2 linked regions of the Homo sapiens genome follow. The protein of the gene in region 2 purifies or fractionates together with the protein of the main gene of each other region. This does not show direct contact. Each region holds a gene or a part of one and is shown on either strand. Other genes may lie near its edges.

What was found.
Region 1: the proteins of RAP2C (region 2) and FUNDC2 purify together in Homo sapiens (co-immunoprecipitation; one large-scale study listed by IntAct). This does not show direct contact.

What each region holds. Positions count from the first base shown.
Region 1 is NC_000023.11:155,033,222-155,037,050, forward strand, and holds part of FUNDC2 (FUN14 domain-containing protein 2), read left to right. Parts: intron 1-181; coding exon 182-332; intron 333-3,829. UniProt on the Homo sapiens protein: Binds directly and specifically 1,2-Diacyl-sn-glycero-3-phospho-(1'-myo-inositol-3',4',5'-bisphosphate) (PIP3) leading to the recruitment of PIP3 to mitochondria and may play a role in the regulation of the platelet activation via AKT/GSK3B/cGMP signaling pathways.
Region 2 is NC_000023.11:132,212,938-132,216,766, reverse strand, and holds part of RAP2C (ras-related protein Rap-2c isoform 1 precursor), read left to right. Parts: intron 1-2,191; exon of another isoform or gene 2,192-2,232; intron 2,233-2,320; coding exon 2,321-2,599; 3' UTR 2,600-2,633; intron 2,634-2,811; exon of another isoform or gene 2,812-2,864; intron 2,865-3,829. UniProt on the Homo sapiens protein: Small GTP-binding protein which cycles between a GDP-bound inactive and a GTP-bound active form. May play a role in cytoskeletal rearrangements and regulate cell spreading through activation of the effector TNIK.

The sequences.
Region 1 (3,829 bases), about 23 Mb from region 2:
TAGACATTAGTATTTGCTGATTTTAGTCTGATTTTCCAAAATTGCAACTTAGAATAAATTTACTATTTAAAATAGAATATTTGGAGGTTTCTTATTACATTTATGTCTGTTTCTTTAAATATCTCAATCTAGTTAGGTATAAAAGTAAATATTTTCTTATTTAACGTATTACTTCTTGTAGGAAACTTTGAGGGAAATTTTGAGTCACTGGACCTTGCGGAATTTGCTAAGAAGCAGCCATGGTGGCGTAAGCTGTTCGGGCAGGAATCTGGACCTTCAGCAGAAAAGTATAGCGTGGCAACCCAGCTGTTCATTGGAGGTGTCACTGGATGGTAAGTGATGTGAAAGATGTCCACTGTCTTTTGTGCATGATTTAGTATTGCAGTTATAGGTACCATCATCTCCTTTAACCAGTGAAAACACATTGGCTTCTGTGAAATTGGTCACTTAATGTGGAGCATGTATCTAAACATCATCTTAAAGTACCATTTAATGGTTACACATAATGATTGTTTCCTATATGCCAGGTTCTGTTTGAAGTATTTACATAGATATCTCATTTCCTTCTCACAACTCTGGAATTAGTACTGTTATTTTCTATCCTCATTTTATAGAAACTGAGGCTCAGAAAGGTTAGTTTGCCCAAGGCCACATAGCTGGTAACTGGTAGAATAAGGAGCTAACTACTTATTAGCTATGTCAGATGATAACTTAATGTGACACAGCTTATGGTTTCATTTGTAATAAATTCAAAAAGTAATAGCAAATTTCATAGGTGAATATTGAATCCATTAATCTCATAGACTCTTTACATTTGAAAAATTTTATAGCACCATATAGCAAATATAGAACAGCACATTTAACAGGTGTACATTTTAGCAAATACTTGGAGTGAACACCTATGTAACAACTGCTAAGGTTAAAAAAAACGTGGCTAGCGCCCTAGAAACTCGAGAGGTTATTAAGCAGTTATTTCATTGCTTTTCTTTGTAGTTTTAACACCAGTTATGTCACTAAATAACATACTGTGGTTTACCTGCTTTCCACCTTAAAGTAAATGCAATCAGTATGTATTCTTTTGAGTCTTGCTTTTTTCGCTCAACCTGATGTTTCATATATTCAACTACATTGTGTATAGTTGTAGTTTCTTCACTTTCACTTGTATTTTGAGTTCCATTATGTGAATATACCACAGTATATCCAGTTGATGACTGATATTGGAGTTGTTTCCATTTTTGGCTAATACTATGCTTATATGAGTATTAGATTTCCCAGTGTATATGTGCATACATTTCTGTAGGGTCTGTACCTAGAAATTGCTAGGTAATGGGTATAGGTATCTTCAGCTTCACTAAATAATGTCAAACCACCTTCCAAAACTGTTTTTAACAGTTTACAGTCCCAGCAAGGACCAAATGAACCTGTTGTTCTACATGGTGGCACTTGATTTTGCCAGGCTATTAAATTTTTAAAAAATTAGTTAATTTTTCCTTAGCGAGGTAATCAAGTTAAATCCAGACTATAAAAATTTTACCAGTCTGGTAGTTAGGTAGTAGTATTTCATGGTGGCTTCATTTACATTTCCCTGAGTAGGAGTGACATTGATCGACTTTTACGTATGTTTGTTGACCATTTGGATCTCCTCTTTCAGTTCCACTCTAGTTTTTTTCCTCTGAAGTTGTCATTCTTTCCCTTGTTAAGCTGTAAGAGTTCTTTATATATTCTGAATATTCTCAGTCCTTTGTTAGTTGTGTGTATTATAGATATTTTCACTCATTCTGTGGTTATCTTTTCGTTTTATGGTATCTTTTGATGAACTGAAGATCTTATTTTTAATATAGTCAATTTTATCAATCTTAACCTTAATGGTTAGTGATTTTTGTGGCTTATTTAAGTAATCTTTGCCTACCCCATGTTTCAGAACTTTTATTATTTGACCTTTCACATTTAGATTTATTATCCACCTGGAATTGTTATTGTGCTCAGTATGTGGTAGATTCCTTCTTTTCTTCCCCATGTGGAATACCCATTTGTCCCAACTTAATTTATTGTGAAAGCTATCCCTTTCCCCGCTGCTTTATGTGAGTGTGTGTGCGCATGCATATGTGTGTGTCTGCTATCTTGTTCTTTAGGAACATCTTGGCTATTTTCTTTATCTCTTAGTTTTTAAATTTAATAAATAGGTATATTATAAGTTGCACATATTTAAAGTATAAAATTTGATACATTTTTACATATGTACATGCCCATAAAACCATCACCACAGTCAAGATAATGAACATACCTATCACTTCAAAAGCTGCTTTGTACCTCTTTGTAATTCCACGCTCTTTCCTTCATGCCATCCTCCCGCCACTGATCTGCTTTCTATTACTATAGATTATGTTTTCTAGATTCTTTTTAGAAGTGGAATTACATAGTATATATTCTTTTTTGTCTGGCTTCTCTTATTCACCATAATAATATATTTTTTTGTTTTGAGACGGAGTCTTGCTCTGTTGCCCAGACTGGAGTGCAGTGGCACGATCTTGGCTCACCGCCTCCTGGGTTCAAGCAGTTCTCCTGCATCAGCCTTCACCATAATAATTTTGAGATAATCTGTGCTTTTCTGTTTATCAACAGTTCATTCCTTTTTATTGCTAAGTAGTACTCCATTGTATGGATGTACCACAATCTGTTTCTCCATCCACCTTTGATGGACATTTGAGTTTTTTTTTCACTTTTTAGCTGTTACAGATAAAACTTCAAGTTTGTATACAAGTGTACAAGTCTTTGTATGAACATATGCTTTCATTTCTTTTGGGTAAATATCTAGGAATAGTATGGCTGAGTCACGTAGTAAGTGAATGTTCTAAATTTACAAGTACCTGCCAGTTTTTAAAGTGCCTGTACCATCTTACATCTCCACCAGCAATGTGTGAGGGTTCCAGTTCCTCTGCATCCTTACTAACACTTGGTATTATCTTTTTGATTACGAACATCTTAGTGGGTATGAAGTTGTATCTCATTGTGGTTTGAATTTGCGTTTCTCTAATGACTAATGATGTTGAGCATTTTCACGGGCTTATTTTTTGCCATTCATATATCTTTGATGACTTATTTGTTCAAATCTTTTTCCACATATTTTTATTGGGTTGTTGGTTTTCTTTCACTGCTGAATCGTGAGAGTTCTTTAAATATTCTGGATAGAAGTCTTAGATATGTGATTTGCAAATATATTACTTCTCTGTAGCTTTTCATTATCTGAACTGTACCTTTCAAAGAGCAGAAGTTCTTAATCTTGAAGTGCAGCTCTTTTGTAGCTCCAGCTTTTGGTGTCATGTCTGAGAATATTTGCCTAATCCAGGGTCACCAAGATTTTCTCTCGCTTTTTCTAGATTGTATATAGGTTCGGATTTTATATTTAGTTCTGTGATCCATTTTGATTTACTTTTTGTATATAGTATAAGGTAGGAATCCAAGTTTTTTTTGCGTATGGGTATCTAGTTGTCCCCACATTTGTAAAAAAAAGACTGTCTTTTTCTCCACTGAATTGTCTTTACACCTATGTTGAAAATCAGTTGACTATATGTTTTTGAGCTCTTTGTACTGCCAAATTGATCTAGGTGCCATTATCATGCTGTTTTGATTACTGTAACTTAGGTAATGCAAGTCTTGAAATTTTGTTTTTCATCAAAGCTATTTTGAGTATTCTAGGTATTTAGCATTTCCATCTGAATTTTATCTTGTTTTTATACACTCCTCCATATGAATTTTAGAATTAGGTTGCTGCCAGTTTCTGCCAGACACCCGATGAGATTTTGACTGGGATTGCATTGATCCATAAACA
Region 2 (3,829 bases):
AAGTGAAAAAGAAATGTCAGTCTGTGTATATTTCGCCTGGAATATAACCTTCTGAAGTTGCTTGCTCAATTCAACAAGTATTGATTAACTTACACGACAAAACATCTAACAAATAATCTCGGGTAAATAGAGCACTTTGAAAAAATTATTTGGAGCCGATTATCTGTTGCACAGATAAGTCCTCTGTGTCTGTCCCACCCACACCTTCCCCTCCCACCCCCCAACACCCCCTCCCGCCGCCCTCCCCTTCTCTCTCAAGTTTCTCAACTAGATTCATAAATCTTAGTGTTGCAAGACGAAGAACTCAAGACCTGCCTTCTAGGCATTTTACTTAATTACTTGGGGCGTGTAGTAGGAAGAAAAGTTACTAATAGAAAAGACTAGTACCTAGAATTAATAACCAACAAAAATCAGGAATGACTCTTTTTCTGCAGTTGATCCAAATTGTTTCTGGTAACATTGCCTGTATTTACAGAAAATACGTGGGTCTGGGAACACTGAACAAGTGCAGATTTCTTACTCCGGCTGGGTGGCCAAACTGGATGTGGTCCAATCTCTTAGAAAATCTGTCCTGTCCTTCACTGGGAAACAGACTGAAGGTTTAACGTTATTTTAGGATATGCAATGTATGTTTCTATTTATCCCTTGAAAATGAATAACCTCATATTGACCCATTATATTGACCTCCATTGATTTAGGAAATGGATATATTTTTTCTGCATTTAAAGGTATGCACTTAATGTAGCTTACTTAAGAGACCTTAAGTGCTTTAGCCAATACAATGTGCTAATTCCACTTTCTTTAGTATTTTAAATTAAAGTACTATAGTGAACTTTCCCAGTAACCTGATAGAACAACTTCAGGGATTTTTTTTTTTTAAGATGATAAATTCTGGGGAAATAAATCAAAGCTATTGAGACCAAACTAAATTCATTTTATGTAGGCATAAATTCCCAAACAATAGTATCATAAAAGCATTTTCCCCCAGAAAGTACCAAAGTACTGAAGGTGCTGTTTGACAGGCATTTTTTCCCTAAAGGATCCTCAGGAGATTTGTTATTCTATCAGCTTACTCTCTGGAGGCTGAGAGTCTTTTGAAGGGTGTTTCATAAGATTTCTGTTATATCCATTTGTGTTATAGACATGAATTGGGAGTGAAAAACTGTGCCGTTATTTCAGTGGAGGTGTAAACTCTTTTGAGCCCAAATGCCCTAAGTTTGGATTTTCAGCTGAACTTATGTTTCCATAAAGACAATGGGAAATAAGCGTAACCTAGAAATCTGAGTTGATATATTATCAAACCAAATTGATGCAAATATCAAATAACTATATTTTTATAGATTTTCATAGTCCCTTGCTTTTCCGTAGGCCCACATGTGAATATTCTGTACTTACTATGACTTCCAATTAAGCATACATTTTCTATTTAAGGCAAACTTTTAAAATTATGAAATATTACCGAAAATGGTGATTTTTATAATTAAGTCTATAATATTGTATTAAATCAATACTTGCCCCCACCTCCCAAAACTGATGCTACTGGAGAATTGCTAACGCTCTTATCTTTTGTAATTCGTTGTAACTACTTGGAAAAAGTAATACGCATGGGGAAACAAGTAGTAAAAACAAACACAGGCAAAAAAAAAAAAAATGACTTCTTCCCACCCAGACTCCCCTTGCACTGTCCTTCCCAGGAGTTGCTCACTGTTACAGTAGTTTCTAGTGAATTTAAGTGTATTGTAAGGTGTTTGATTTTACTGGAATAAATGCATACCATTCAATTTAAAATAAAACATTTAAGTGTATCCATCTGGTTGTAACTCTTTTATTCTAGGCATTACAAAGTGGTTTTTTTTCCCACTTAAAACACTTTCACTCAAGCCCTCTTGCTACATGGCTAGGAATGCATAGATGCTGCAATCCTGTGCTAGGATAACAGGTGTTACAAGGAGTGATGACAAGCAGGCAGGTTTAGGGAGATGGCCAAACATCCTTATGTACGAATGGATTAATCATTTGGAAACTTGCTTTTTTAATCAGTATAGACTGGGGGTGGGTAAAAGTGATTATATGAGTCAAGGTTAGTGTGCAACCCATGTTTTATATTCTTGACAAACCCAGCAGGTAGGGTCTCTGGAAATTATCTAGTTCTTACTTCAGTGGACAAAATGATGACGATTTCTCTGTTTAGGTGTGATTTCATTTTGGATTCAGCTTTGTATACTCACTGAGGTATGACTTTTTGTAATACTGTAATATTTCTGTTATGGTTATACAAACAGCATAATGTTTTTCTTTCTCTTTGTGATTGCTTGAATAGGATATCAAGCCAATGAGAGATCAAATTGTCAGAGTGAAGAGATATGAAAAAGTCCCACTAATCCTAGTAGGAAATAAAGTGGATCTGGAACCAGAAAGAGAGGTTATGTCTTCAGAAGGCAGAGCTCTGGCTCAAGAATGGGGCTGTCCTTTCATGGAGACATCGGCAAAAAGTAAATCAATGGTGGATGAACTTTTTGCTGAGATCGTCAGGCAAATGAACTATTCATCCCTGCCGGAGAAGCAAGATCAGTGTTGTACAACTTGTGTCGTCCAGTAAAGAAGATAACCTCAATCATGGCCATACCGAGCAGGTTAGTTTTTGATGGAACTGTATGAATCAGGTAGTGTTTTGTTTTTTGATCAAGTAAAACAAAAAGCTGGTTAGTGTTAATACATATGGCACTGCCTTAAATTTCTTTATTTTTAAAATAACATTTTCCATCACACAAAATAGTCAACATTCAATGAAGAAAATTTTTTTAAATGCAGATAAGCAAAGCGGAGATAAGAAATTGCTTATATTCCCATCACCAGGATTTTAAGTGAGTTATTGTTCTTCCTTCTCTGCTTTATTGGTAATATTTCTTTGGGTTGAGTTAAACCATAATACACTTTTTCCCTGTTCTTCTGATTTAGCATCCAGAATGCACAGGAGAGCACTGAGTAATAATTTCAGAAGTTTTGTGGTATTTTCTGTACTTTTATGTTTTTATGTCCTGAGCAAGCAAATTGCTGCAATTAAAATCACCAATTTACTAATCACCAAGTGCTTGATTAACAGTACAATTATTTAAGCAAATTCATCTGTACCTAACACTTGAGGGACTTAAGTGACCTCTGATAATAACAAATTATAGTGCCACAGTGTACCCTGACTTCATTATAAATATACGGTCCAAAAGATAATCTAGTTGAATTATCTGTGATGTGTTAGAAGGAACAGTTTCATGCATAAAAAAATTTATTCAATTTAATAAATTATGAGATTAATAGGAACAGTAACAAACCTTCAGGCCTTTCACTGAGTTAAATGATAACTTACAAGTTTTTTTTAATGAATGAGTTTTTTTTTAAAACTCATACTTTTTTAAAAGTAAGATTATGTAAAACTTACGAAGCATTTAAAACAAGATTATTTATGCCATGATCTTTTAGTCTAGATTGTAATTGAGCAAATAGTCTCACTTAGACAGTAACACTTAGATAATAAGATAAAACAACCAATATTGTGAATGACTGAGAAACCGCAGCAAATGCCAGACTAGCCTGACAGTATCAGGAATGAAATTGATCTTCCTGAGCCAAGGCTGACCTCGAGTCTAGGAGGCAGTGTTGCAAATGGCAACAGGCATTTCAGATTGGAGCAATGATTCCTAATCAAGGGTCTGGCTTTGTGTATGCTCCCCGGAGAAAAGACTAACGGTCCCTAATTTATCTTTTCAGACAAGGTCTCCTGTCAGATAGTGTCATCTTTGAAAATGAAGGATGACAACAATGCTTTATTTAA